Linked DNA regions of Homo sapiens: regions 1, 2, 4, 5, 6 and 7 are each linked to region 3. The links come from fine-mapping of genetic effects on gene expression. A gene starts in region 3. Each other region holds a variant in brackets. All regions are shown on one strand. Distances are from middle to middle. Region 1 has its middle 100 kb from the start of USP46. Region 2 has its middle 240 kb from the start of USP46. Region 3 holds the start of USP46 (ubiquitin specific peptidase 46). Region 4 overlaps LINC01618 (long intergenic non-protein coding RNA 1618). Region 5 overlaps SCFD2 (sec1 family domain containing 2). Region 6 has its middle 4.8 kb from the start of DANCR. Region 7 overlaps USP46 (ubiquitin specific peptidase 46).

The links.
Region 1: its variant is fine-mapped to the expression of USP46 in tibial nerve (GTEx, PIP above 0.99).
Region 2: its variant is fine-mapped to the expression of USP46 in whole blood (INTERVAL, PIP above 0.99).
Region 4: its variant is fine-mapped to the expression of USP46 in whole blood (INTERVAL, PIP above 0.99).
Region 5: its variant is fine-mapped to the expression of USP46 in whole blood (TOPMed, PIP above 0.99).
Region 6: its variant is fine-mapped to the expression of USP46 in whole blood (TOPMed, PIP above 0.99).
Region 7: its variant is fine-mapped to the expression of USP46 in whole blood (TOPMed, PIP 0.98).

Annotation. Positions count from the first base shown.
Region 1 is chr4:52,553,572-52,558,005 of GRCh38, forward strand. No RefSeq gene overlaps it. Among named protein-coding and RNA genes, the nearest start is that of USP46, 100 kb to the right of the region's middle. The variant A/G (reference allele first, on the strand shown) is at 1,935.
Region 2 is chr4:52,414,015-52,418,448 of GRCh38, forward strand. No RefSeq gene overlaps it. Among named protein-coding and RNA genes, the nearest start is that of USP46, 240 kb to the right of the region's middle. The variant T/TAA (reference allele first, on the strand shown) is at 2,088.
Region 3 is chr4:52,656,693-52,661,126 of GRCh38, forward strand. USP46 (ubiquitin specific peptidase 46) reads right to left here and starts at 2,609. Exons shown (of 9, transcript NM_022832.4): 1 at 2,423-2,609. The coding sequence starts at 2,458. It overlaps USP46-DT (USP46 divergent transcript), which reads left to right and starts at 2,714. Exons shown (of 2, transcript NR_125363.1): 1 at 2,714-2,984; 2 at 4,200-4,434. RefSeq lists silencers at 2,063-2,582, 2,593-3,022.
Region 4 is chr4:52,813,759-52,818,192 of GRCh38, forward strand. It overlaps LINC01618 (long intergenic non-protein coding RNA 1618), which reads left to right. Exons shown (of 5, transcript NR_040106.1): 5 at 1,395-1,706. Among named protein-coding and RNA genes, the nearest start is that of LINC01618, 26 kb to the left of the region's middle. RefSeq lists enhancers at 2,425-3,030, 3,031-3,635. The variant C/CT (reference allele first, on the strand shown) is at 2,668.
Region 5 is chr4:53,010,450-53,014,883 of GRCh38, forward strand. The region is part of intron 5 of SCFD2 (sec1 family domain containing 2); the gene reads right to left. Among named protein-coding and RNA genes, the nearest start is that of SCFD2-AS1, 85 kb to the left of the region's middle. The variant T/C (reference allele first, on the strand shown) is at 2,469.
Region 6 is chr4:52,705,411-52,709,844 of GRCh38, forward strand. No RefSeq gene overlaps it. Among named protein-coding and RNA genes, the nearest start is that of DANCR, 4.8 kb to the right of the region's middle. The variant G/A (reference allele first, on the strand shown) is at 2,454.
Region 7 is chr4:52,615,227-52,619,660 of GRCh38, forward strand. The region is part of intron 4 of USP46 (ubiquitin specific peptidase 46); the gene reads right to left. Among named protein-coding and RNA genes, the nearest start is that of USP46, 42 kb to the right of the region's middle. The variant G/T (reference allele first, on the strand shown) is at 2,512.

The DNA.
Region 1 (4,434 bases), 100 kb before region 3:
CTAAAGTAGCTTGCTTTTTCTAACCCATCTCCACAAATCTCCCCAATTTCCCCCACCCCTGCTCCCCGACCCTACACATGCAATATTCAGTTTAATGTACAGAGGCACGTATTTTGCAGGATTTGCTTCCACATGCCTTGAAAAAGTGCCAGTTGGAGATAATAATTGTGTATACATGCATGTTTCAGTAAACTCGATAAGGCCAATTTTTCCTGTAGCTTTAAAACATGTCACTGAATCTCAGTTGAACACCTGATGAAAATGGCTTACAAACAGAAGTTGAGATGTATGAAAATCCTGAACACTGGAGACATTTGTTGTGGAGAGATCATCAAGGAGTGAGATCTTGCTGAGGGGCAGCGGATTCCTACAGCTCATCTCAGGCTCACCTGAAGGGTACATGAATTGAGCGGAAGGATGGATAGAGTTTGCTTGTTTGTTCATTTAACACATATTTTCCAAGCACCTACTTTGTGCCAGGCACTGTTCTAGGTGTTAATCTATGCTCACTTTGGGTTTTTGCTCAAATATCATCATTTCAAGAAAGCGTAGCCTGACTGCCATATTTTAAATTGCAATTTTGATTGCAGTCTTCCCAATCCCTTATTCTGCTCTACATTTTCTTGTTTCATAACATGTGTTATGTTTTACTACATACTATGATTTACTTCTCTATTGCCTTTTGTTGTCTTTCTTCCCCCCCCCAACTCCATGCCAGAATTTCTGCTCCACAATGGCAGGAATCTCAATCTATTTTATTCATTGATACAGTGCCTGACTCATAATAGGAATTGAATTGAATGCCCCGCTGGTGTCCAGAGAATCAGAAAATAGGTTATTGGTGTGGAAAACCTCCATACCTTTGAGGTCAGAAGTGTTATGAGGAGATACAATACAGCTCAACAGTACACATTTATTATCTCATCATTTCTGTGAGAAAAGAATTTGGGAGCAGCTTTTCTGGTTGGTTGGTTGGTATTGAATAGTTGGTGAATGAACTGATGAGTGCTGGCAGCATAAGAATGAATAAAACATACCAAATTCTCTGTCTTCTACAAATTCATTCATTCATTTATTCTCTCTCTCTCTCTCTCTCTCTCCCTCCATGCATATAGTTGCCATTCACTGGGTTAAGTCCAGCTATGATGCTATCACATTGTTCCGACCTGCAAATATCATTTCTTACAAATGCCCTGGGCAATCCGTGGCTTCTTTCCAGAGCAGCCTAAATGCCCTTGCTACAAAACCTAGATCCCTAGTGCACTGCATATTCTAATTTCCCATTTGTTTTTATGAAAATAAAGTTTGCCTTTCAAATGTAAATGCTCCAGGGCCCCAGTCAGGCTTCCTGAACTCTCTGCACAGCAGTACCTCTGGGTTTAGGGAAGAAAACAGATTTATTTTTACTTTCATATTGGTCTAACAACGTTACAACGCTATACACACTTTTGTCAATAAAGTTAAGATTACCACCACCCCCCTTTCCAAACTATGAAAAAGACAAAACTCATTACTCTCCAAAAGCCACATAAAAGCAAAAACATTCCACTGACAGTTTAATAAAAAACAGGACATGCCAAACAGGAAGCATACAGAGAATGACAACTGGGATTAAGCAAGGGGGCTGGAGAGGACAGATTAAAGATTCTCGGTGAGCACAATCAACAACAGGAATGTTTAAGGGAGGGTTGCATTAAAGTGCATGAAAATGGTAACTGACTTCAGTAATATCTACTGCCTTTCAACACAGATAATGACATTAGTGTATGAGATACAGAATAGACATCAGGAACTATTTTTCCAGGTAGAAGACAAAACGAGAACAAAAAGCCTTATATGTCAAGACCAACTGGGTACAAAAACAGTGAAATGAGAACAGAATGTGAATAGAAGGGGAACGTTGCTGAAACCAGCAATTAAGAGCTGTCTCAGGA[A/G]TTTAAAGGCGTGTTTTGGTGGGAGGCATGGAGCGGGAAGGGACACAAAAAAATCTTTGTGGCTTTGTTTCTTTTGCCGAGGGATGAAAGGCCAATAGTGGTTGGTCTTGCGAAGGAGGGAAAGAATTGTCAAACCTGCATTTCAAGGGCTGAGCTGTTTAACAAGGTAGCACTAGCCACATATGTGATTGAAGATTAAACGGAAATAATTTTTTTTATACTTTAAGTTGTAAGGTACATGTGCACAACTTGAAGGTTTGTTACATATGTATACATGTGCCATGTTGGTGTGCTGCACCCATTAACTCGTCATTTACATTAGGTATATCTCCTAATGCTATCCCCTTCTCCTCCTCCAACCCCATGACAGGCCCCCAGGTGTGATGTCCCCCACCCTGTGTCCAAGTGTTCTCATTGTTCAAATCCCACCTGTGAATGAGAACATGCAGTGTTTGGTTTTCTGTCCTTGCAAAAGTTTGCTCAGAATGATGGTTTCCAGCTTCATCCATGTCCCTACAAAGGACATGAACTCATCCTTTTTTATGGCTGCATAGCATTCCATGGTGTATATGTGCCACATTTTCTTAATCCAGTCTATCATTTATGGACATTTGGGGTTCCAAGTCTTTGCTATTGTGAATAGTGCCGCAGTAAACATATGTGTGCATGTGTCTTTATAGCAGCATGATTTATAATCCTTTGAAATGAAGTGTAAAATTCAGTTTCTCAATCACACCAGTCACATTTCAAGTGCTCAGTAGCCACACGTGACACATTGGACAGCACAGGGCCAGAACATTTGTTTCATCATTACAGAAACTCCTCTACGACAGCACTGCCATGGAGCATGGCAGGTAGGAAAGCAAGTTTTGGTCAGTATCAACTCCAGCTTTACCTGTGGTTCTCTTACCCCCTAAAGAGCTACAAACTCCTAATGTTAGAGTCTGCAAGGACAGTGCAACTGAAGTCAAAATTCTCATCACCCTTGAGGCTTCCTCCTCCACACACACAAATGAGGTTCAGAGTGGTTAGAATAAGGCATTTATTAAACATATCTTCATAAAGGTGCCAGAGATACTAAAGTGAATAAAACACAGATTAAAACCTCCAGGTACTTGCACCCTTCAGCCAGTAGGGTAGACATGAAAGAGACTAATGACATCAAGATGGTCAATATGGGAATAGAGATGCATATGAGGCACTGTAGCAAACTGGATTTTCAAACAAAAAAAATGGCCATGGCAATATTTCCAGTTTCACATGCCTTTCCAGATGCTTCCCTCTCCATCAAGAATGGGAATCCATTTCTTCTCCTTTTCCACCTAGAGAGCCTCATGACTGCTCAGACCTATACAGTAGAACGGAAGTGATGCTATGTGACTTCTGAGGCTAGGTCATATAAAAGACACACATTCCTCCCGGCTTGCTGTCTCTCTCTCTCTCTCTGCCACGTGAAGTGCACACCTTTGTAGCCCTCAGCCACCCTGTAAAAAGTCTAGCACTTTGAAGTTGTAATGCTAAAAAGACCATGTGGGAAAACAACAGAAATACAGAGAGAGATGCCCAAGGAGCCCCAGCTGTTCCATACTCCGGAGGTTTGGCCCTTCCCAGCATCAGCCAAGTGAGTGAATGTCCTCTCAAATGATTCCAGCCCAGCCTTTAAGTCTTCCAGATGAGGTCCTGTTAACACTCAGGGATGGCTGGAGTGTAGGCAGATGTAGTAAAGGTAGGAGTTTCATTTATTCATTCTCTTATTCATTTATCCAATAAATATATATATTTAACCCCATTGTGCCAGGCACCTGGCTTGTGCATCAGTTAAGATTGCTTTTGACTGAAAACAGCTGCACTCCCAAAAAAGTGGTTCAAATGCTAAGGACAAGTTGTCTATTTAATGAGAAAATCAGAGGGGAGCAGTCCCTGGAATATGTTGCTGTTTCCAGCTAGCCTCTTGCTATCTTTCTCCTTCACCAACCTCAGAATGTTGGCTTTTTATCTGAATGCCTCATGGTCACAAGATGGCTGTAATAGCTCCACGCATCACACCCTCTCAAGCTTCTCATGCCACATCCAAAGGCAGGAAGAAGAAGAACACCAAAGTTTCCTCTTGTGTGCTCTCAACTTTTATCAGAGAGAAAAACATTTATCTGAAGTTCCCACCAGCCAACTTCCCCTTATATCAAATCAACCAGGAGCAAATCACACAGCCATCCTAGCAGAGGGTAGATGAAACAGGGAGGGTGCTGGGAAAGTGAGTATCTGGCCTTTTCAGCTTCTATAGTGGAAAACAGACGAGGGAAAGGGGGATTGGAAAAATTAGGGGGAAGACAACCAGCAGGGCCTGCCACAGCGAGGCTCATCAAAGTAGTTGGGACATAATCCTGCCTTCAGAATGCCAAGGTAGGAAACATCCAATTATGCAATGCACAACCATGGAAAAGTATGGAAAGGCTGCAAGCAGCACACTTGAGATGTGGCCAGTAGCATAATGGGAGGCAGA
Region 2 (4,434 bases), 240 kb before region 3:
CCACTGCCAGAAACTTTGGACCATTACACTAATATGAAAGAAGCTGCTACTATATCTTATATGTTTTAGGGTTAATTTGTTACAGTTATTTAGCCTACCTTAATTAATTCACCATACTTTTATAATTAAAACAAGTAGAGCCGTGTTCAAGGTGACAAATGGCATAATGCTTCTCTCCTCTCCCTCACTAAAATGATGCCAAGAAATAACAGCAAGGACAGGAGGGGGCCAATCAGAGTAGGAGAGTGCTCAGCAGGTTCCCAGGAGGGAGGAAGCAGATGAAAGAGCACTGACCACTGAAGCAGGGTGGAGCATGCCACATCCAGACCCATTGCCCTGTGTGGAGAGAGACTGGAGTGTCTTTAGGGTTCTACCTGCTAGAGTCCCAGGGACACTCCAGACTTGGAAACTGCACGTGGTTCAATGGAGAACAAGAGTGAGGAGTGAGGTATAAAATTGGAGTGTTATTTAATGGTCAGTCTGTGGAACAAAATGACCCACAGCAACCCCTCCAATCCAGTGCTCAGAATGGCCAGCAGCCAGGCATTCAGCATCCCTAACCCCACTAACATGAAGAAGGTTATTCTCTAATGAGACCAAACATGCTGTCTAAGATTAACCAGGATAGTTAGTGTGAGTGTTAATGTCTCCAATAAACTGCATTCTGATGTTAAGAGGGGCTACCAGCAGAAGGGACAGCTCCCTTCCCACTCATCCTAAAGTGAAGCCCGTTGGCCAATAAGCTCTACTCCCCTAGGCAGAGCTCTGAGCCCTGCTGTTTATTGATTTTGACATGAATATGAATAAGTAAGCAAGGGTCTCCAGAAATTTGAAAACAAACTGTAATGTCAGGGAAAGACTAAGAGAAGCAAACTGTCAAGGAAACAGAAATTTAGAGAACCAAAGAGGTCCTTGCTGCCAAAATCCTACAATGATATTGTCAGAAAAATTAGAGAAGATACAGCATGTATGAATAGGATGCTGTGAGAAAGAGACAATCAAAGAACAAGAATGGAATTTTGGAAATTTAAAATGTGGTTACTGAGACAAATCTCCCATGGAGAAGAATTTCAGATAAATTATGTAGATGCTTCACCCTCAAGTTGGGGAACATAAATTCCCATTCCTTGAGTGTGGACTGTGCATAGTCACTTCCTACCGAAGAGTACAGTGTGGAAAGGGTAAGAGCAAGAAAAGCGTAACTCTGAAGTGGAGAAACTTAACAAACACAGTCTCAGCCAGGTGATCAAGGTCAACATCAAACATCATAAATCATGTTGATAGAATGTTCTATTGACATGGCGTGATGCAAATGGCACTTTACCACTGTGATCCTCCTCCCAGTAACTCACTGACCCAGTAATATCATGAGAAAAACATTAGATAAATTCAAATAGTGGGCCATCCTACAAAATATCTGATCAGTATTCCTCAAAACAGTCAAGTCATCAAAAGCAAGGAAAGTCTGAGAAACTGCTATAGTCAAGAGGAGCCTGAAGAGACAATGCAATTACATGTAATGTGGTAGCTTGCATAGGGTCCTGGTCAAGAAAAAGAACAGTAGTTAAAAGCTAAGGACATCTAAATAAGCTATGAGCTTTGGTTAATAATAATGTATCAATATAATATAGGTTTATCAACTGTGACCACTGTCACTTACTAATGTAAGATGTTACTAATAGGAGAAATGGGGTACATGGTATATGGGAACTCTTTGTATGGTCTTTTCAATGTTTTGGTAAATCTAAAACTGTTCAAAAAATAAAGTCTGTTTTAAAAATGTGGTTACAGAATTCAGAAAGTTAATAGACAAACTGAAAGAGAAAGCTGAGAAATTTTTCCAAACAGTGGTACAAGAAGATGAAGAATAGGGAGATAGCAGTGAAAAGGTAAGCAATAGAAATGATTAATTTAGTTGATTGACCTTTCTACTAATATAGGTTCTAGAAAGCAAAAATAAGGAAAAATTGATGGGAAGAAATTGTCAGAGAAAGAGTGCACGAACATTTATGAAATAAGACATGAGTATTCAAAGTGAAAGTCTATCCATATATATATATATGGGTATATATATGTGTGTGTGTGTA[T/TAA]ATATATATATATATATATATATATATATATATCAGGATAAATGAAAAAAGATTAATAACCAGAATGTCCAGTTGCATTGTTTGAAAAGATGCAATTCTGCTATCGGAGAAAAGAAAACAAATGGGATGGGAATGAAACACTTAAGATATCTTAAGTACAGATTATGTAGTAAGTGGAATATGTCTGTGTTATACATAGAAGGGATGGAAGAACCAAAAGATAATTAATATTCATGAGGCATTAAATATACATAAGGCACCTGGATACAAAATAGTCATGATATATTGAATATTCACCATGCTCAGTGAATACTCAGAAATTGCTGAATATACATAAGACAAGATGTATTTAGTATTCAGAGGCCTAATCCAACTACCCATTAGCAACACCATTTTGGCTTCACATGTCCTCTGCTCAAGAAACAGTACTGAAACCCACAGCTACTAAGCAGGCTAATTGGCTAGCTATAGCTATGGCCAGACATACCTGCCCTGCATCTCTCCAACAGGGCAAGTCTGTGCCATGGCCCTGGGGGGCTTCCATCTCTGGGCTCCCTGGCCTAAACACTATCCAACTTTGGTCCTACTAAGCTACCATCAGTGGGGAAGGCTGATGTGGCAGAGAGAGGGAGAGAGAAGAGAGAGACACATACAGGTTGTGTACCCAGGACCAGTAGTGTGGTTCTTCTACCCTGCTTGCAACCTTACTTAAGGGTTAACTTACATAATTGATTTCCCTTAGCTTTTGTCTTTATGCATTACATTTTTAATTGATTTAATAAGCTGTGTGATCCCCACATTTTTATTTGGTCTGCGAGTCTGTCTTTTCTGTCAGCCGTGCAGGAAGAAGTACACTGATGCTTTCTCTGCCAGGAAGTATGTTTGAAGGCTACATTGCATCTGAGCAGTTATTGACATGACAATTCCCAGGCACATCATTGTGGAATGTCAGAACATTAGAGATAAAGGAAAAATTGTAATGCTTTCAGAAAGATGAAAGAGTTCGCTTACAAATAAACAAGAATTACGCAAAAGGCTTCTCATTAACTGCAACTGAGGCTAAAAGACAAATAAGAAATGCCTCCAAAGAACTGAAAGAAAATTATTCGCAACCTAAAATTCTATACGTTACCAAAATATTAGTAAAGTGACATAATAAAATTATTGTCAGGTTTGCAAGGATCCTTAAAGTTTACCTCCTCCACATTCATTGTCAGAAGATACTTGAGGATGTGATCTGGAAAAATGAAAGAGTAAACGAAAAGTCAGGATGACTTGGGACACAGGAAACTGGAAAACAAGGGGCAAGGTTGTTTCCAGAGATATGATACTATGTGTGAGGCTTAAAAAGGCAATAAACACAAAAAGCAGGGGAGACAAGGCAATCAAAACAACAGAAAAAAAACAAACCTACATATGGTAGAAAAATGTAATCAAAGTGAACTATTTGACCCTGTAATGAGCAATCTGTATGTACTCTTAACAATGTAACCGTGATTTACTAACTTTGTACAGTTAGACTGAACCCCTAAACAAATCTTCATTATGCACACAGAAAGCAATCTAAATATTTCTGCCATGATGATGTTAGTGGAAAACTACAAATGGTAAAGTAGGGGATAAAGTGAGAGATAAACCCTGCAGTAAGAGTAAGGAGACTAATATTTTCATCTTATAAAAAGCAAAGTTGAGAAACAATTCCTGTATTTGATAATTCAAGAAATACTGATGTAAATATTTAAAGTTTCAAAGGTAACCAACATAGGAAAGAAAAAAGAATGTTGTAACTATTTGGGAATGAATGGCAGAAGAACTGCTTCAGGTGAGCTAATCCCTCATCTGTCAGAGCAGGAAATTAGTAGATAATTTCTAAAATTGATAAGGAGTATAGTTATATACTTACTGACATGGAGGAACCATGAGAAGAATTCAAAACAGATACTATTAAATGAATTACAAATAATCATCTCCTCTTCCCAAGCTGAACTTGGGAAGATTTTTGGCCAGAGACTGATGCATTGTGTTCCAAGTCCTTGTATATGGTACTTTCTTTTTCTTTTTCTTTCTTTCTTTCTTTTTTTTTTTTTTTTTTTTCTTGAGACAGAGTTTTGCTCTGTCACCCAGGCTGGAGTGCAGTGGTGCTATCACAGCTGACTGCAGCCTCAACCTCCCAGGCTTAAGTGATTCTCCCACCCCAGCCTCCTGAGTAGCTGGGACTACAGGCACATGCCACCAGGCCTGGCTAATTTTTGTATTTTTATAGAGACAGAATCTCACTATGTTGCCCAGGCTGATCTCAAATTCCTGCGCTCAAGTAATCCACCCGCCTAGGCCTCCCAAAGTGCTG
Region 3 (4,434 bases):
AAGGAAAGTCTAAGACCGGACAACTTGTTCAAGGACACAAAGCCAACATGTGTTAGAACCAGGACCTGCCGGGTATGGTGGCTCACGGCAGTAATTTGGCGCTTCGGGAGGCTGAGGTGGGAGGACCACTTGAGCCCAGGTATTAGGGACCAGCCTGGGCAACATAGGGAGACCCAGTCTCTATGGAAAATTTAAAAATTAGCCAGGCATGGTGGCACGTGCCTGTAGTCCCAGCTACTCAGAAGGCAGAGGTGGGAGAATCACTTGAGCCTGGGAAGTGGAGGCTGCAGTGAGCCACCATGTTCATGCCACTGCACTCCAGCCTGGGTGACAGTGTGAGACCTTGTCAAAAAAAAAAAAAAAAAAAAAAAGAACCAGGACCTGAACCCAGGAAGTCTGACATTAGAACCCAAACTCTGTCACTCTCTAGACATGGCGTCTAAATACAACATCAGACTCCTTACTTAATGAATTACTGGTTCCTCACTTCATCTGGGTGATGGTCCTAAATTTGGTACCTTTTTAGGTCTCCACCTGAGATGTCAACTCTCAGGGCAGTATTGGCCTGCTCCTCTCAGGTCCTCCCCACACCCTGTCTCCCTGACTGAGTTTCACTGAAACACGTTGTGACATTCAGCCCAGGTGTGCCAGAAAGCCCCCGCAGCACTGAGGGTGGGTGGGGGGACGCGTGGGGGGAGGTTGGGGGCTGGCTTCCTCTAGGGGCATGCTAGCTCTCAAGTTTCCAGCCTGCTTCTACACAGAGAGGTGTAACCACACACAAGCAGGACAAGAACACCACCAAGGGCTGGGTCGGAGCCTCACTACCCTGTAGTATCCTTAGGCCTGCGGCCACACCAACAGACATAAAAGAGTATTCAAGCTGCTCCCGATTCACAGTTCCCTCAGGAACTGGTCGTAGGAGAGAAACTGAGAAGGCATCACCTCTTCACAAGCAGCCCCTCCACAGGAATAAGAGGAAATCTGACTCCTCGCAGAGAAAGGAAAAAAAGAGAAAACAGAAAGGCTCTAGGATCCACTCCCCGTATGGAACTCGCCCGGCACCAACCAGTACCTGTGCAGCTATCACTCTGGGAGGCCCCAGCATTTGCTTTGCTGGCCGTGACAGTGGCACGTCCCATTGTGCTGAAAGCTGAAGCCAGCGGGTCTCAATTCCACCCCTGAGCTAACACAAGGCTTCTTAATGCTCCTTTGCCATGTGTTGATCTTGCAACAGAATGTGGGACAGAAGATTTAAAAAGCTATGTGATGGGGGAAGGGCAGCCAGATCACCTTACACCAGGGCTTCTCCATCAAGCTTCCTTGGATTCCCTTTAGGGGCCAGTATTACTAGCTTCAAGGGAGGTTTTCCTCAAACTGGCACTGTAAGAGCACGTGTTGCCTCCGGGGACCCGCTTGGGAGGGGGCTAGAGGGGAGGCGGGGTGCAGTCTAAAGAATGTAGGCAAAACACACATCATCTCACCCTGCAAGGGACAGCAATGCCTTACTCCAATCTGAGCTCCCCAAAGGCTCTGACAAGTGGAGGCGCCAGCAGGGTCCAGCCTGGGGACCCAAGGGCTGGAGGTTCTTCCTACAGAAAAAGGGAAAGCAATGGGGGAAACCCAAATTAAAGTGACCACCGCATCATGGGCTCGGACTGCATCAGAACCCAGTGATGTCCCTGGCTGTATCCATGCCCGCCAGCCTCCCCTAGGTCTACAGCGGATCAGGCAGGATAACCCTGGAGACCTCCTCCAAGCCCACAGCCCGCCCCACCCTTAGGGCCTGCAAATATTACCGCCACAGAGCCTTGTCCCTTTTTCACAGATGGGGAAACTGAGGCATGCGGAGCAAATTACGGTGCTTTTTCAAACCAGGTTGAAGTTCACTTCTCCAGCCACAATTTTGCACTTTTTTTACAGCTTTATTACATTTCCGATTTCTCCAGATACACAATTGCTATTGCAAAGTGAATTTTAAACACCTCGGAAGGACTGAACTCAAAATGAGATGAGGGCAGTCTGGACGTCCAATAAGGCTGTCTTGACCGCAAGAAGAGGATGGGTGCCCCCCACCTCCAGCTTATCCCCCACCCCCTCCCCGGGGACGTTCAGGTTCGGTCGCTTCCCTTCCCTCAAGCCGCTTCCACCGCAACCCGAGGGCGGGGGGCGCAGCAGCGCGGCCCCGGGATCGCCGGGCGGGTTCCGAGGTCCCGGGGCTGAGACGGGCGCCGGGGGCTCGGGGACCCTCCCCGGCCGCTGAGGTGGCTGCGGCCGCGCGCCCAGCTCGGGGGCCGGGAACTTCTGGCGGCGCGGACCCCGCCGCCCCCGCCGCCCCAGCCACCGGGCGTGTGTGCAGCTCGGGCTTCCCTTTCTTTGCCTCGCCGCGAGTCGGGCGCGACCCCGAGGCGGCTCGGCCACTCACCATATTACAGATGGAGGCGATGTTTCGGACAGTCATTAGTCTAAAGGTTGCAGCGATCCCTCACCGCCATCTTTACAAGGGGAAACCGGGACTGCCCATGGTGGCGCGCTGGCGGGGAGGCCGGGCGGCAGCGCGGCGGCCTGGGGTCCGGCTTTCAGTTTGGCTGGGAGAGGGAGGCCGGGAGGAGGAGGCGGCGGCGCGGGGAGGGCGGGGAGGGAGCGCGGAGGGGCGGGGAGTGGCGGAGCGAGGGAGCCTGGGCCGCGGCCGGCGGCGCGGGGAGGAGGGGCGGCCCGGGCGCGCCGCGTGAGTCCGAGCCGGCCGCTCAGAGCGCTCCAGGCTGGGTTCCCGGGCCCCGCCGCGCCGCCTCCTTCCCAGCTCGCCCGCCCAGGCCTGGCCTCCTGCTTTTCCATTTGATTCCCTGCCTCTTTCTATTCGGACTGGAATGCCGGGCCAGGCTCCGGGGCGCGCCGCTGCGGCAGCCGCACCTCGCAGGTCCCCCGGCCGACCCCGACGCGGAAGCGGCGGCCCTCCTCGCCGTCGGGGAGCCAGGGAGCCGGGGACGGTACGGTGCGCGGGGTGGGGAAGCGGGCGGCCCAGGCCGGGGCGAACCCGGGGCCGCCTTCCGTCCTCGCTTTTTCCTCGTCGCCTTCCTCCTGGCGGGCCTCGGCAGCCCCCGGTGTTTATTTTTTGGCGAGGGGTAGGGGTGGCGACGTCCAACTTTTAGTTCCTCCCGAGGGTTCCAACCAGATGGCACCGGCGGGGACCCAAGAAGTAAAATGGGGCGAGGACACCGGAGCGGTCAGAGAGCCCTCGCCAGCTGCGGGCCGGGCGCCCGAGAAAGGGCGCCGGGAAGGGGGAGGAATCCGGGTCTGGGCGGAGGCCAGCAGCGGCGCGCTCGGGCGGCTTGTGACATTAGCGGGTCCAAAGGAGACGTCCCGGTTCCGCGCAAGCACTAGGGACTGTCCAAGGAGTGGAAAGAACGAAAACAAAACTTTTCCATATCTTCAAGGCAGGCATACCCCTCTCGGGTGCACCCAGCCTCTAGTTGTTGAGATGGGCGCTGTATGGGATCATGCACATTTCCCGCATTAAAGGTCGTGGCTGCGGGCTCAGAGCGCGAGTCTGTGCACCACTTAGCAGATAGGTCCACGCGAATTGAAGGGGCCCGTTTCTGAATGTGTGGAACAGTTACACATACAAGGTTGCAATTCGATGCTTTCAAAGGAGAAATTGTACAAGTGAGATGCGTGATAAATTCTTAGATCAGTGTATTTAATGACAAATTGAATCAGAAGAAAAATTAGTTGAAGATAGCTTTTATCTAACCAAGAGTAAAGATTTGAGAGCCGTTGATTGCTAATATCCCTAGAATCTGGGGAGGAAACAGTAAGACAGACTTGTTGACTGAAGGTTTTGGGAGTCATGTCACTGTGTTTTCCAGTGGACATGAGAAATAATATTCCTGCTTAAGTCTTTCAACCTAAATATTATTTCCAAATACATCCTGATGATAATTTCTTCCATTGTAAGTCATGACTGATTTTCTTCTCTCTCTCTCTGTTTTTTAAGAGACAGGTTCTCGCTATGTTGCCCAGCCTGAGGCTGGGCAGCCCCGAGTCATCCCAAACTCCTGGGCTCCAGCAATCATCCCACCTTGGCCTCCCAAAGCGCTGGGACAACAGGCGTGAACCACTGCACCCAATGTTTACATTCCTGATCTCCTTTAATCGCCACCATAACTATCAGCTGGTACATGCTATTATCTCCTTTTTTGCAGATCAGTCACATAAGGCTTAGAGGATCAAGGATCCTGCCCAGATGACTTACCGAAATGTTACAGATTAAGTTGGTGTGGTAACCTGGGCTGAGCACTCTGGGAGAGGAAGAGAAGAGAGAAGACAGGAAACAACTGAACTATGACCAATCCCAGCACGGAGGCCCAGAAAACTTTAAGATTTGAGTATTAATGTCTCAAGGTCAGGAGCAACCTCAAGGCTAAAACTCAGATCTCA
Region 4 (4,434 bases), 160 kb after region 3:
ACAGCTGTGTGAGTGAACCAGCAAACACCATGTAAAACAGTCTTTATGCTGAGCCTGGCACAACCTCCTGACCCACACAGTCGTGAACAATAAGAAATGGTTGTTGTTTAAGCCACTAAGTTTTGGGGTGGTTTGTCTTGCCACAATGTGTAACAGATAAATTCAATCTCAATCCTCTCTCTATGTTCCTGAGAAGAGTGTTAAAGTCAAGGAAGGGCCTTTTACTTTGACTCACAAGTCTACAAGACCTTCAACGCCTGGGTTAGATCCTCTTTCCTCTGTCTCCACTTGGCTTCATGTACCCAATAAAGAAGATTTTGATGTCCTCAGACACCAAAATGTCAGTGGATTTCTTTGGGTCTTGTAGTTATAGGTAACTTCCTGTATTTTTCAATTTTTCTAGAATTAGCAAAAATTATTTTAATAATGAGGAAAGATATACCAAAACTCTTTTTCATAACCGTGGCAGCATGGCAACCACTGTTTGTGGGTTGCACAGCAGCCACTCCCAGACTTTGTCTTTCTTCCCAAAGAGCCTGAAAGAACCAGGTGCTCATCTTCCCAGTCTCCTTTGGTGCTAGAGGCAGCCATGCAATCAAATACCAACAAGATGCCAATAGATACGAAGGTAAGTCTGCTGAGAGGCTTCTGACCAAGAGTTTTCCTTGTTGGGAAGGAAAGAAGGAAGGAAGAAGAGCTCTCTCTTGTTTTGCTCCTTCTGCGCCCTGCCTTTGGTTGTGGACACGTAAGATTGTGATGTTTGGAGCTCTTTAGCCATTTTGCAACCATAAGGTAATGGGTTTACAGTTTAAAAAACTAAAGAAAACAATCTACTCAAAAATAAAAAGGAGGAAAGAAACAGAGATTGAAAAGCACTTGGCTTCTTGATATCATCATTGGTTGCTGAACCAACGCTGAGACTTCCCGTCTGTTGACTACCTGTTAACTAATTGACGAATGTCCGTATAGTTTAAACCAGCATTAATTTTTTTTTTTTTTTTTTTTTTTTTACTCACAGCTGAAAGCATCCTAGCTAATACAGCATCTCTCTGGGTATTGAACATTCTCTTACTGGTACAATCGTCCCTTCAGTATACATGGGGGATTGGTTTTAGGACCACTGCATATACCAAAATCTGCATATACTCAAGTCCTTCAGTCAGTGCTGTGGAACCCATGAGTGCCAAAAGGCAGCCCTCCATATACACAGCTTTCATGTCTTGCCAGTACTATATTTTTGGTCCATGTTTGGTTGAAAAAAAACCTATGTATATGTGGACGTACATAGTTCAAATCTGTGTTGTTCAGGGGTCAACTGCACTTAGTTTTCCCATGCAGCTAAATTCAATTCTTCCCGCTGTAAATTAATCCTTTTCCCTCTTTTTTTGTCACAGTGGGGACAAGACTTGCTGCTTATCAATCTTTGCAGTAGAGGGAATTCTGTGGCAGGCAGCTATCAGACTTGAACTGCAATACCGGCTCTTCCTGGCTTTCCAGCTTGTGGGCCCCGCCTCCATAATCATGTGAACCATTTCCTTAAAATCAATCACCCCCTGTGACTTATTTATATATATATGTATATGATCTGTTTCTCTGGGGAACCCTGACTAATACAATGATCTAAACCAATTTTCTGTTTTGATTTTAGCTTTGTATTACGGCAATTTGCTATCTATCCAAAAATCAATAAAATAGAATTAAAAACTCCCATGCATCTAGCACCCAGCTTCAACAATGGTTAATTTGCAACTTTTCTTTCTCATGCTATACTCCCACCCACTTAACTACCTCCCATATTATTTCCAGGCCAACCCCAGACATTTTATCATTTTACCTATATACCTTTCAGTATGCATCCCTAGAAACTAATGACTTTTAAAAATATAACCACAATACCATTTCCACACTTAAAAATAATTCCTTAATATCATCAAATATTCCATCATGTTTAAATTTCCACCAATTATCTATCTCTTAAAAATTGGGGCTGAGCATGGTGGCTCACACTTGTAATCCCAGCACTTTGGGAAGCCAAGATGGGTGGATCACTTGAGCCCAGGAGTTCAAGACCAGCCTGTGCAACATGGTGAACCCCCATCTCTACTAAAAATACAAAACATTTAGCTGGGAGAGTAGTGGTGTGCACCAGCTATTTGGGAGGCTGAGGTGGGAGGATCACCTGAGCCCAGGAGGTCGAAGCTGCAGTGAGCTGAGATTTTGCCACTGCACTCCAGCCTGGGCGACCAGAGTAAGACCCTGTCTCAAAAAAAAAAAAAAAAAAAAAAAAAAAAGTTATACTATGTATCATTTTTTAAAGTTAATACAGAAGTAGGACCTACTCATTGAAGAAGTTTTGGAAAACATGAGAAAGCACATAGAATAAAAATGAAAATCACCTGCAGTCCCCACCAGCCTATAAGATGCCATTGTATGATTAGAAAAAGATGGACCTTTCCAGCAGGCACAACCTGTGCCAAGATGCCAGCCACCACTTATTGTCTCAAGTGGTACCCCCGCATCCTGCACAAACTGGGCCATTGTACACTCATGGCCCTGAATATTCCACCAGTGTTTACATTTTGAAGTAGAGCCTTCCAGATTGTTTATGGATATAGGCATAATTTTTGTATAATCAGTTCCATGCTATACATTCTGTTTTGTAAGCAG[C/CT]TTTTTTTTTTTCACTTAATAACAGACCATAGAGAGTGGAGCCAAGATGGCCGAATAGGAACAGCTCCGGTCTACAGCTCCCAGCGTGAGCGACGCAGAAGACGGGTGATTTCTGCATTTCCATCTGAGGTACCGGGTTCATCTCACTAGGGAGTGCCAGACAGTGGGCGCAGGCCAGTGTGTGCACGCACCGTGCGCGAGCCGAAGCAGGGCGAGGCATTGCCTCACCTGGGAAGCGCAAGGGGTCAGGGAGTTCCCTTTCCGAGTCAAAGAAAGGGGTGACGGACGCACCTGGAAAATCGGGTCACTCCCACCCGAATATTGCGCTTTTCAGACCGGCTTAAGAAACGGCGCACCACGAGACTATATCCCACACCTGGCTCAGAGGGTCCTACGCCCACGGAATCTCGCTGATTGCCAGCACAGCAGTCTGAGATCAAACTGCAAGGCGGCAACGAGGCTGGGGGAGGGGCGCCCGCCATTGCCCAGGCTTGCTTAGGTAAACAAAGCAGCCGGGAAGCTCGAACTGGGTGGAGCCCACTACAGCTCAAGGAGGCCTGCCTGCCTCTGTAGGCTCCACCTCTGGGGGCAGGGCACAGACAAACAAAAAGACAGCAGTAACCTCTGCAGACTTAAGTGTCCCTGTCTGACAGCTTTGAAGAGAGCAGTGGTTCTCCCAGCACGCAGCTGGAGATCTGAGAACGGGCAGACTGCCTCCTCAAGTGGGTCCCTGACCCCTGACCCCCGAGCAGCCTAACTGGGAGGCACCCCCCAGCAGGGGCACACTGACACCTCACACGGCAGGGTATTCCAACAGACCTGCAGCTGAGGGTCCTGTCTGTTAGAAGGAAAACTAACAACCAGAAAGGACATCTACACCGAAAACCCATCTGTACATCACCATCATCAAAGACCAAAAGTAGATAAAACCACAAAGATGGGGAAAAAACAGAACAGAAAAACTGGAAACTCTAAAACGCAGAGCGCCTCTCCTCCTCCAAAGGAACGCAGTTCCTCACCAGCAACAGAACAAAGCTGGATGGAGAATGATTTTGACAAGCTGAGAGAAGAAGGCTTCAGACGATCAAATTACTCTGAGCTATGGGAGGACATTCAAACCAAAGGCAAAGAAGTTGAAAACTTTGAAAAAAATTTAGAAGAATGTATAACTAGAATAACCAATACAGAGAAGTGCTTAAAGGAGCTGATGGAGCTGAAAACCAAGGCTCGAGAACTACGTGAAGAATGCAGAAGCCTCAGGAGCCGATGCGATCAACTGGAAGAAAGGGTATCAGCAATGGAAGATGAAATGAATGAAATGAAGCGAGAAGGGAAGTTTAGAGAAAAAAGAATAAAAAGAAATGAGCAAAGCCTCCAAGAAATATGGGACTATGTGAAAAGACCAAATCTACGTCTGATTGGTGTACCTGAAAGTGATGTGGAGAATGGAACCAAGTTGGAAAACACTCTGCAGGATATTATCCAGGAGAACTTCCCCAATCTAGCAAGGCAGGCCAACGTTCAGATTCAGGAAATACAGAGAACGGCACAAAGATACTCCTGGAGAAGAGCAACTCCAAGACACATAATTGTCAGATTCACCAAAGTTGAAATGAAGGAAAAAATGTTAAGGGCAGCCAGAGAGAAAGGTCGGGTTACCCTCAAAGGAAAGACCATCAGACTAACAGCAGATCTCTCGGCAGAAACCTACAAGCCAGAAGAGAGTGGGGGCCAATATTCAACATTCTTAAAGAAAAGAATTTTCAA
Region 5 (4,434 bases), 350 kb after region 3:
AGACACGCTAAGTTCTGCTGAATGTCAAGGCTGACTTGGGAATCCAGCTGCTTCTTACACTATAGCAATGAGGACAGAACATTCTTGGCGGAAATCCCTGTCCTTGTGGGCAAGCTGCCTTTAAACTAGACCTCCCAGTACCTGGCACAGTTCTGGGCTCACAGTAGATACTCAATAAACTTTTCTGAAACGAATAAATCATTGAATAAAGGATGAATAAGTGAACAAAGAAACATTTTGGAAGAGAAACATCTTAGGTATGGTATTGGTCACCTCTCTCAAGTGAAAGTTTTCATTCCTTTTGCTTCTTTTCCCATTTTGGGGCCGGGCTGGGGGGCGCGGTCCAGCCTCTCCAACATATGTCTTTACACTCTCAGGACGTTCCTCAGATCCCAAATACATAGCAGCAGGTAGTGTAATCAGTTATGTCCTTAGAATGGTGACAATTTAAAATTTCTGCACCTCTTTTGTTCCAGAAAATTCATGCCTTAAAAGACCAACGGCAAACTCTTCAAAATGCCTTCAGGAAATAAAGGTGACATTTGTTTCTATAGCGTACCTTGAAAAAGCATCCAGTTCAAACACTGTTCCAAAGCACTAGCTATGTCTGATTTCATATTTTACATTTGGACTTTATTTTCCCCCTAAAAAAGGCAGACATCAGAATATTATGTTTGCCAACTCATGAAACAATTGTTACTATTCTGTATTCTTTCTATGAGGATAGTATTATGAGGCTGTGCTCATAATAAAACCTTCATCCTAAATCTCTGTGCACCTTATGAATTTCACTGCATCTTTGCTTTTTTTTCCCCCCCAAAGAAGTCATTCAGGTTCCTTTAATAATACCAGTAAATAGCTCCAGCCTTCCACAGCTGCAGAGGTTTACTGTCCTGAGAGATTTTTCAGTGTTACAATTCATGCTTCCAATCAAAACAGTGACAGAGTTGACAGGATTTAGTGAGAAGAAGGACTTGATTAGGAACCAGGACACTACTGAGCAAATATTAAACAACTACAGGGAATTTCTAATATGCAGTGTTCTCTCTGTTCACAACAAAAACAAGCCAGAAACAATTTCCTGTGCTGCAGCTAAGTGAAATGGAAGTTTGTTTTTAAGGTTCCTTGTAGTGTGTTGTGTACATTTCAGCAAAGCCGATTTCACCTATGAGAGGCACTGGCTCCTTAAATAACTCCATTCTTCTCATTTCAAATAGAAACCAGCTGCACTTCTAAACTGTAACAAGAACACCTATCCAGGAGGTCAAAGCTGGAAGACACCTCACTGTGAAACGCTTCAAGCTTCTTTATCTGGGTTACAAGTTTGGTCTGCAGTGAATTGTCAGTGACAACCTGTGGCCTGGAATTTAATTCCTTGATGCCTTCATAACATTATTATTTCTTCCTCTCTAGAGGATAAACAAGTACATAATATACTATGAATTGGAGGCTGAAACCGACATTGATTGTGGGGAGAGGAAAAGGTTCTGGGAACACAAATCTGGGGATTTTTCATTGAGAATAAGTAATTTTGAAAAACCAGGTTTTAGGCTTTTTTTTTTTTTTTTTTAATAGCTTAACTCCTTCTATGGGTTAATTTGAGAGGACTCCATCCCCCTACTCCCTGCCCCACAAATTTCCAAAAACAACAGCAAGAAAGATCCTGGCAGAAGTCAAAGGGTCAATGGATCCTAAATAGTTTTCAGGTTCAAGTATGCACCATCAACAATGAGAAAAGCCCAGCCGTGTTATAATGACTCACCCCTTGACAAGAGATTCCAAACCGTGAAATCGAACAACTGCATATTTAGCCCTACGAATTGCATGGCTTACAAGTCACAGAGGGGTAAATTTGAAATAGGGAAAGGCTGGGATACCTTATTAGCATAAAATCTCTCTCTCTCTTTCTCTCTCTCTCTCTCTCTCTCACACACACACACACACACACAAAAGGCAGGGAAGTGGAGGCAGAGGCTGCACTGTGATCCTGGTCAAATAGGTTGGTCCTCTGTGAAGTGCCCATAATTCCAGAAGAACCCAGGGCTGGCTATTTGGTCCGAGGGGCCACTCTCATGGCCTGTTTGAAATAGTTCTCCTAACAGCAAGATTCAAAAAAGAATATTCTTTTCTCTCTTTATTTTTCTTTCATTCCTTTGTTCATGTAGGATAAAATTTTTACCTTTCTCTACCCCATTTCATTTTCTTAGCATTTCAGGAGAGATGAACCAGTGCTTTTCTGGTACTGCTCATCAGCATGTTCTAGCCAGTCGGCAAAAAAGGCATCTGCATTTATGGAGTTAATTGACATCTTATTAATTTTGCTCAGATTCTTTCTTTTACCTCCCTCTCCCTCTCCCCTCCTTTCTGTGTGTGTGTGTGTGTGTGTGTTTTTTTTTAAGAGAGAGAAAGCTAATGAAAACCATGTTTATATGCTCAAAGGCACAGAGGAAATTCATTACTCTGAGGAA[T/C]AGCACACTCCACAAGTGAAATGAAAGTAATCTTATTTATGACAGGAAGGGGCCCTAGCTAGACTGAACTCCACCACACTTCCACTGTTACATAGAAAAGGAGCTGCAGAGCTCCTGCACCAACTCCAAATGGCGGCCTCACTGACAACAAACACATTTGCACTCTGTGTTTGAAAACTGTTAGAAGCTCCAGAAAAACAGCCATCTAATAGAGACAAGGAAACAAAATCTGCTTAGAATAGGCCATTCTTCCTTTACACCTACAGTACTTTCCCAGGACTCCTTGTGACTAAATGTTACAAAGATATCTCATCAAATCATTAGCTGATGACATTTATCAAGTACTGGTAAATACAGCTATGTTAGTTTCATAGCCTTAATTCCCTTATTAGAAGAGTTTTTCACTGTAAATTCATGGGCCCTTTCCTGTGTAAATAAATAATGGAAGAACTTAAATAATTCCTTTCACTATAAATGTCACCTTGTACCCTTGCAGACAATTCTCCCTTTCCTTCTTGAAAATTCCTTCAACTGTGAGAATATTTCCTTTTTTATTACTTGGGATTTTGCCATGTGGCTTTTTTTCCTCATTCATTCAATTAGTCAACGAAAATCATTTAGCTGTTATGTTCTAGAGGTTGGTGGGGAGATAGTCTCTACAATTTCTGTCAAAACTACTCATGAGTACTCTTCAAAATCTTAATATTATGTGAAATGTTGGCAGTAATAAGGTAGTTTTATAACATTTATTATATGGCTTCTGAGAATAACTTTTGCTGGAACGTCCTCTGAGATCATTAGGCCCATCTCCTCATTTATAGATGAGAAATCAGGCTCAAGGGCAGATCCCAGACTGTATATCTCCTTATTAAAAAATAGTTTTTTAAATTCCAAGAAGCTTCACATGTTTACCACTGAAGGAAAGGTATTATTGCTTGGATTCCGTGCAGGGGAGGGATTTTATAGTCCTCCCATCTTATGAAAAGGCTTCAGTATAAAATAAAAAGGGTCAACTAAAAAATATCTGGTATTTTGAAGTCCCATACAGAGATGCTATATGAGAGAGCAACTTGGAATTAAATTAACTAATTTGAGTTAACTCATCTTTATTAAGCCTGAGGTGCTGAGCATGTGTTGGGTCCCGGAGAAAAACAGACATACACCCTTTGCCATGTGCAGGGGATGCAGGGAGGTAAATGGGTGGACCTGTTTACATTATGGTATGGTAGGCGCTATGATGTGGAAGTGCAGAGTGCTATGAGACAGAGGAGGCTTCCTCCAGGGTGAAAGGAGTTGGTATGGAGATGGAGTGGCAGTGATTGTTCCAGGCAAAAGAAACAACTTGTATAAAAGCCTGGAAAAGAAAGTTTCAGAGTTTTTGTGAAAACAGTGTTAGTTACGCACTGAAGGGGAGGTTAGAAAGGGATTATAGTCAGAGTCTCTGATTTTCACTGGCCACACCTAAAATCCATGTGTTCCTTACTTGCCTTGTCCAAGTTGACATTTTTAAGTGTGGTATGTAACATTTATTTGTACAGTTATTCTTCCCTGTCATCCAAGACACTATTCTTAGTTTTCCTTTGCAATACACAAAGGTGATTCACTCACCTTGAGAAGGCCCTGAATTCAGCTTATTCAGCATTTATCAAGAACCTCATAGGCACAACCCTCTCCAAGTGCTGCCTCAGCCCTCTGTGTTTATAGTCCTTGTTATAGCACAGATCACATGATATTAGGGCTCCTTGGGCTCCCCCGTGAGCTCCAGGAAGGACTGTCTTAGCCACCTCCAGAACTCCAGCACAATGCCAAGCATATAACAGGAGATAAATGCTTCTTGAATAAATACACGAGCTTGGTGGGATATACCTCAATTCTTAAAACATACTTAAATGCACCTTTTGAAAAAAACAGTGTCCTACATAGCTTGCTTTGGTACAGACGGTAAGGGGACAACCAAAAAATGGTT
Region 6 (4,434 bases), 49 kb after region 3:
CCATTTCACTATTAACATGTACTACTTCCCTCTCCCTTTATACAGGGATATCTGAAGCTCTCTTCTGATATTTATCAACGATAAATATGCTGGTTTTTTACCACGCAAATGAAATTAAATTAGAGAGGGTAGAACTAAGGGGGGTTTAGTTTTGTTATTAGGGCTTTCCAACATTGGGGAAAAAAAGTGACTTAAATGCAGGTCTGAAGAAGACATTGGGATTAATGTGTTTGTGTGCAAGACTAAAAAAGAGGACGAGCATGTGATGTATATTTATCCCAAAGAGGGTGGAGAAAGGTGGCATTAAACTGTTCCTAGATGACTTCTCAGCAGCTTTATTGTCCAGAGAGCTTTGTGGCTGCTCAGAGTGTACAAATGGCAATTTTTATTTTGAGTTTGTGGACGTCAGGAAACCTTTCTGCCCATTGACCCCTCATCTCTGAATCTCTAAAACCAATCTTATGTTATATAGTGGAGGTTCCTGGGGCTCAGAAGCAAGCTTCCCTACCCCCAACTCCCCGTATTTGGCTGAGACCTTCTGTCTAGTTCTGGAAACTGGATTTTTCTCCTAGTGACCTATCAGGTCACTTATAGTCCTACCTGCTTTCAACAAGCTCACCCCACAGCAGAGGTCAGGTTGTTGAATCTCAGTTTGGTGGCTTGGGCCTCTCTTTCTGCTACTGTTCTTAGATAGCACAGACCCAGGAATTCAACAGCTGGCAACCCATTCCCACCTCTGCCTGTTTTTCAGCACTCAGTGGGTACCTCTTCTTGGGCAAGTTATTCAATATCTCTGGGTCTCAGTTTCCTATCTGTAAAATGAAGATCATCTAGTACATATATCTCAGTGTTAGTATGAGGAATCAAAAGAGACAATGCAAAAAAAAAAAAAAAAAAAAGCTTAGAACAGTGCCTGGCACAAATACTAGGTGTACAGTAAACTGGGCCGTTGCTGATGATTAAGGAAGAAGCCCTTGTGTAAGCATGGAGTTTCCTCCTTAGCTGTGCTGTGCTAAGGATGGTATTAAAGGATAGCCAACAATTCCCCTTTCTAGAGCATCTGAGCAGCCAAGGTAGATTTACCCTAAAACTGTTGAAGTAAAGTTTAGGTGTCAATTTCTTTATTTGCATGGGCCTCACCTAGGGCCCAAGAGGGGCTCTAACAATGTGTCCATGGGGTTGCATATTTTTGTAAAATTTTGCATTGTTTCTTTTAAGAAGAAGGACCACCCAAATTGTATAAGCTTTCACACCTCACAAAGGCTGGCTCCATTCCGGTATCCAAGTCACATGACACCTCTGGAGCCGCCAATACATGAGGTGGGTGCTGCCAGTAGTAGATTGATAAATAGATATAGAATTATAAATATGATCATACATGTACAAAAGGATGATTTGCAACACTGAATTTTGGGCCGGGCACAGTGGCTCATGCCTGTAATCCCAGCACTTTGGGAGGCTGAGGCAGGTGGATCACGAAGTCAAGACATTGAGACCATCTTGGCCAACTTGGCGAAACTCGTCTCTACTAAAAATACAAAAATTAGCCAGGCGTGGTGGCGGGCGCCTGTAATCCCAGCTACTCAGGAGGCTGAGGCATGAGAATTGCTGGAACCTGGTAGGCAGAGGTTGCAGTGAGCCCAGATCGTGCCACTGAACTCCAGCTCTAGCGACACAGCAAGACCACGTCTCAAAATAAATAAATAAATAAATAAATAAATAAATAAATAAAATAAAACACTGAGTTTGTTACTTATTTAGATAAGCCAACTTGTTTTAAAATAAAGAATATAAATTTCCTTCTATCTTTAGAATTGAATTGGAACTTGTACAATACCCTTAATAATAATAATTTGATCTAACCCCCCAAAATGCCTCCCTCACCTTGCTGCTTAATCAAATTTCACAACATCCTGTTATTTTTGCAAATTAGTTACTGTGCAGAATATAAACTATGTCTTGGCTCCAGGCTATGTTGTCTCCTCTATTCATTCTGGTGGCTTTTTGGGCCTTACCCTACCACCAGAACTCTATACCCTATAACTGACTTCCACAGCTGAGCACACTAAGATCTGCAGAAATTGCATCCCATAGCTCAGCAAAACACATTTTGCCATGAATTTAAAATAACCTCTCAGGTAATTGTCATCTTTTTTTCAGTAAAGAAAAAATTGCCAAAATTTAGAAAAGAAATACAATAGCCAAAAAATGAAAACATTCGTTCTTAATAGAATATTTGATAGAACAAAACCTTGATGCTAAGGACCAAACGAGATGTCATCTGAGTCACCCAACATATCCATATACTTCTGCAGATGCTTCTAGTGATTCCAGGTGACCTTCTCTGTACACCTAAGGCCCCTTTTCAGACTCCAGCCCTAGCTAGGAGTCAGGCAGGGGATGGAGAAGAGGTGATTGTCGTGGTGCTAGGACCATGTCTGCTGTGGGGGTGG[G/A]AGGGTAGACACAGGAGACAGCAGTGGAGGCATCACAAGAGATCATTCTTCTGCTTTCAGGTTGGTTGTTGCCTATGCCATGCCTACTGCCCGCTCTTGTGTTGTAGACAAGGGAGTGTCTCTAACTGTGGAAGGTGGGGGCTCTCCTTTTTTGTAAAACGCTATACTTTATTCCGATATCGTGTTCTTGAAGTTACTTACAAAAGGCTAATATAGCCCTTATTTTGTTTTCTGTAATGAAAATTATTATATCAGTAATACATGCTCTTTGTAAAGAATTTGAATGATACCTCAAAAATATTTTTAGAAAGTAAGACACATGAAATCCCATCACCTTGAGAGAAATACCACTGACATTGTAGTAACCATATTTTCACACACACACACACACACACACACACAAACTATACTTGTACATGTATATACATAGAATACTATACATATATACATACTATACTATAAATATATACATAGTATGTATGTATTTATATTATATAGCTACATACATATAGTTATTTAAGATTACAAGATACAAGTGGTTTTATCATAGATATTTTCTCCTTCCCTCTCACTCCTCTCCCCCATATCCTTCATCCCCTACCCTCTGGATTACCATATTAACAGCAGGTTGTGAGTGTAGATAGGTCTAGGGATAAGTAGGAGTTAAGGAAAAAAGAACAGGTGACAGGCAGCCCAGACGAAGAGAACACCACATGCAAAGGCAAGGAAGCAAGAGCTTATTAGAGCTGTGGCTCTTGAAACTTTAATGTGCATACAGATCACCTGGGGATCTTGTTGAAATATAGATTCCGAATCAGCAGATCTGGGATGAGGCCTGAGATTATGCATTACTACAAGTTTCCAGGGAATGCCCAGGCTGATGGACCACGCTTTGAGAAGCAAGGATGTAAACTATTGTGCAGTTCAATGTAGTATCTACCAGCCACATGTGACTTTTATTTTTATCTATTTATTTATCTTAGATGTCTTGCTCTGTCACCCAGTCTGGAGTGCTGTAGTGCCATCATAGGTCACTGCAGCCTTGAATCCTGAGCTCAAGTGATCCTCTTGCCTCAGCTGCCTGAGTAGCTGGGACTACAGGCCTGTTCTGCCATGCTTGGCTAATTTTTTTTTTCTGTAGAGATGGAGTCTTGCTATATTGCGGCAGCTGGAGTGCAGTGGCTATTCACAGGCACTGTCTGAGCACACTGCAACCTCAAACTTCTGGCCTCAAGGGATCCTCCCACCTCAGACTTCTGCCCACGTAGCTGGGATTATAGGCATACCACCACCAGGCCCAGCATGACTATTTAAATTTAAATTAGTTAAAAGTAAATGAAGTTTAAGATCCAGGTCTTGTGTTGTGCTAGTCACATTTCAAGTACTCAATAGCCACATGTGGCTACCATACTGGACAGCAGAGATATAGAACATTTCCATCACTGCAGAAAGTTGTATGGGAGAGTGCTGGACAGCATTCAGGGGACTGCCATTAGTTCAGCATGGTTGGATTATAATAGGTATGTGGGAAGTGAGAGGAGGAAGTAGATAGGTGGAGGTTGGTTTTGTTTCTGGTGGCAGTAAAGAGCCATTTAACAATTTCCAATGGAGATGACAGCAGTGTGGAAGAATTCATGGGGAAGGGAACACTGGAGACAGGGAAGCTGAATGAAGGTGGAGGCTACTGCAGTGGATGATGCTGAAAGTAAATGATGGAGCTAGAACTAAAGTACAAGCAAGGGCTGGAAAGAAGAGGCAGAGTCATGGTGGTCAATAGGAAGAACTGCCCGCATGGAAGAAGATGAGGAAGTAGGAGGCTGAGAAATGGAGGAGGAGACTGAGAAAGGAAAGCATTTGCGCTAAGTCCTGGACAGCTGGGCTAAGGAATTGTTATTCTTCAAGACAGAGGACACAAAAAGGAAGTGGAGGGGTGGAAGAAGAGAATAAATTCTGGGCCAAAAGAGTGATTTTGTGGTGTCTC
Region 7 (4,434 bases), 41 kb before region 3:
ACAAAAATTGAAGGAAGTATTTGTTTTTTTAAGGCAAGACCAATTTCTATGCCGTCCGCAAGAGCTAAACTTTATATATAAAGACACAGGTTGAAAGTAAATGGTTGGAAAAACGACATACTATGCGAAGAGTTAGCGTAAGTTTGTAGAGGGCTAATATCAGATAAAATAGGTTTTAAGATAAAGTTATTAAGAGAAATAAAAGAGGACATTTCCTAATGATAAGAATGTCAACTTATCAGAAAAACACAACAGTCAAATATGGATAGCCCCCATAATAGAGCCTCAAAAACACATGAAGCTGGAACACTATTTCACCAACAAAAGGGAATAAACTCCTGATACATGCTACACCACCAATGAATCTCAAAAACGTTATGTAAGTGAAGGAAGTCATACATAAAAGACCACATATTGTATGATTCCATTTACATGAAACATCCAGAAAAGGCAAATCTCTAAAGACAAAAAGTAGATTAGTAGTGACCTCAAATAAAACAGGAATTAACTGCCAGTCATGAGGGATCTTACTGGTGTGATGAAAATTTTCTAAAACTAGGTTACAGTACTGGTTACACAACTCAGCAAATTACTTAAAGAAAAAAAATCACTAACTGGATAGGTTTATGGCACGTAAATTATACCTCACCAAAGTTGTTTTTAAAAAGTCAAAAAATTCATAAAACAAAAATTGACAGAATTAAAAGGAGAAACAGAACAATCCCACAAAAATATTTTAATGCTCCTTTCTCAGCAACTGGTAGAAAAGCTAGTAGGGGGAAAGTCAACTAAGACATAAAGGATCTGAATAACTTTATCAACCAACATATCTAACTAACAATTATAGAATGCCACACCCAACAACTGCCAAATATTCTTTTCAACTAAGTAGTTCTCAACAGGGGAAATTTGGCTTCCAGGAGACATCTGACAATGTCTGGAAACATTTCTCAATGTTGTATCTTGGGAGATGCTACTGACATCTAGCAGGTAGAAGCCAGAGATGCTGCTTAACATCCTATAATGCACAGGGCTGTCCCCAACAACAAAGAATTATCTGATTCAGAATGTCAATAGTTCTGACACTAAGAGATCTTTCCTTTCCTTTCCTTTCCCTTCCCTTCCCTTCCCTTTTCCTTCCTTCCTTCCCTTCTTTCCTTCTTTGAGACGGAGTCTTGCTTTGTCACTCAGGCTGGAGTGCAGTGGTGCAATCTCAGCTCACTGCAACCTCCGCCACCTGAGTTCAAGTGATTCTTGTGCCTCAGCCTCCCAAGTAGCTGGAATTAGAGGCATGGGCCACCACACCCGTCTAATTTTTGTATTTTTCGTAGAGACAGGGTTTCACCATGTTGGCTAGGCTGGTCTCAAACTCCCAACCTCAGGTGATCCGCCCGCCTCAGCCTCCCAAAGTGCTAGGATTATAGGCATGAGCCACCGTGCCTGCCTGAGAGACCCTGTTTTCAAGGGCAGATGGTACATTTACCAGGACAGACCATGTGGAAGGACATAAGACATATCTCAATAAATTTAAAACTGAAATCTTACAGAATATATTCCCTAACCACAACAAAATTAGAAATCAATACTATTAGGATATATAAGAAAATCCCAAATATTTGGAAATTAAACAGCATACTTCTAATTAGTGTATGGATCAAATAAAAAAGATCACAGGAGAAATTAGAAAATATTTTGAACTAATGCCAAAGAAAACATACCATCAAAATTTGTAGCATGCAGCTAAACCAATGCTTAAAGGGAAATTTATAGCTTTATATCTGTATGCTAGTAAACAAAAGGGACCATTTTTCTACTTTAACTGCTATATCCTTAGTACCTAAAATAATTCCCAGCATTTAATAGGAAATAAATATTTACTAAATAAGTAATAACTGAACAGAAGACTGAACAAATGGAAAGATATCTAAATGACAACAGTGGCATCTGAGTGGCAGAATCATGACTTTTTTATTCATTTCTGTTTCTAATTTTTAAAAATAATCCACAGTATGTTCCTTAATTAGCAGAACTTTTTTCTTAACCTAAATGGCCCTTCTCTGAAATAAGAGGATTATAGCCAACTGAAACCATAAATAAATTAGATAGCTAGGATCTCATTCTACTTAAGCTCTTATACAAAGAAGGTAATAAAAACAAAAACATTTTGTCCTGTTGGATGCAAATCTTTTTCTGAACTTAATGGTTTTGGAGAGAAGGAGAAATGGAACAAATATAATTCATTAACTGAAAAAAGTCACTGTACCTCTCTCAATTCCAAATGCAAACTGCTACTAGAATTAGAGTGTGTGAAAGCACTGCTCAGAGGAATCACCCCTGCAGGGGCTATCAAAACATGGCGCAAAAGCTTTCCGTTTGGATTTTTCTCTCTCCTTGCCCTAGAATGACATAGTCAAAAGCAATTAATGATCAAATAATGTGGTTTTTTTGGGGTGGGGCGTGGAGGAAGGGTGTTGGTTTGGGGGTTCTGTGGGGTTTTTTTGTTGTTGTTGG[G/T]TTTTCTTGCTTCTCTCTCTTCTAAGAAAGCTGCCAGAAAAGAAAACCATTTTCTTCCCACACACAAGGATCTCATTCTGGTCTAACTGAAAATACAGCTTGTCTCCAAGGAAACATCTATCACTAAGAGACTCCAATACTCTTAGCAAGTACAAGCTATATCTTATTCTCCTTTCTTCTCCCTCAATTTTGAGCATGGAGGTCTCTCAAAAACTCTTAGTTTAAAAGCATAAAGAGACCTCATTTAATATTCTTTTTAAAGTAATTAACTACAAATCAGTTAGTAAAATAGATTACAGAAAGGGTATACCTTATAAATCATGAGCTTTGCTAAATTCTTAAGTAATTAAAATCATATTCAGGCCAGGCACAGTAGTGGCTCACGCCTATAATCCCAGTGCTTTGGATGGCTAAGGTGGGAGAATTACTTAAGGCCAGGAGTTCAAGACCAGCCTGGGCAACATAGTGAGGCCCAGACTCTACAAAAACACCTGTAATCCCAGCACTTTGGAAGGCTCAGGTGGGCAGATCATCTGAGGTCGGGATTTTAAGACCAGCCTGGCCAACATGGTGAAACCCTGTCTTTACTAAAAAATACAAAAATTAACCAGGCATGGTGGCAGGAGCCTATAATTCCAGCTATTCGGGAGGCTAAGGCAGCAAAAGCGCTTGAACCCAGGAAGCAGAGGTTGCAGTAAGCCAAGATCACGCCACTACACTCCAGCCTGGGTGACAGAGTGAGACTCCATCTAAAAAAAAAATCTTATTGAATAGCCAGGCATGGTGGTGTGCACTACTGTATTCCAGCCTGGGCAACAGAGAGAGACCCTAACTCTAAATAAATAAATAAATAAAGTCAGCTTCTAAATCCCCATATTCCTTTCTTGGGTTCAGTAGAAAAGGTGATGAGGTGGCTGTTCTGCACTGTTCAATCATGAGCCGAAAATGTGCTGGCTTTAAAAGGTACCCAATGGTGGGCTTTGGAAAAGTGCAACTACAACCAATTTGAATGAATCTCTGGAACTCAGAATCTCCACTGAGTATCACACCTCCCTCCATTACCCAGCCCTACTCCTATCTGCGAAAGCCTCAGAAACTCTACTGAATCAATTTGAACCTCTGCAAACAAAGCAATGAGGAGCTGTAAAATTGGTACTTAATAAAGCAGTTCTTAAAACAACCTTTTGGCTCCAGTAACAGATACAAACATGTTAAAGCCACTGAGAAGCACGGAAAAATCAGAGATTTGTAGAGCAAAAGCTCAGCTTAAATGGAAAGAGGGAAAATTAAAATAAACAGTGGCAAAATTAAGCTCCAACTGGGCTAACAAATCTTACGAACCAAACAAAAGAATAACCAAGGGAGCATGCAAGGCTACAGTGGAAAATCCCCAAGACCCAATTCTGAAGTGCCTTTATCAAGGTTATCTGGAAAAGTCAGCAATGAATTACCCCTTAAAATAGTCTCTCCAAGTCTATTGCAGAATGAAACTGTCTCCATAAATCCCTCAGTTGACATTTGCACTGCAATCATAAGCAACATTTACAAAGGGTGAGACCCAGGAAAAAAAAAAAAAAGAAAAAGAAAATCATTGTTTTCTGAAAGCATGAAGGCTGGCAAAAAGGTTTTCCAGGATTGAAGGAACTAGCAGCTGAGGCAGCAACAATGGCAAGGTGCCCCCAGGGGCAAATTTGCTGCTCAGGATCTAGTGCCATTTAATCCTACAGTGAGACTTCATAAACATGGGTCTTGGCAATTCTGACTGAAGCACCATCTAAAGGCTGTCTGCCCTAGGCAAAGGGTGTTACTCAAAAGAGGCTCCCTGTTTTTCATCCAGGTGAAGGAAATCTTTCCCATTTGGTCTTCTTGCACACTAAGTCCTCAACACTTTATAGTAACAGAAAAAGCCTGCAGGCTCTGTGT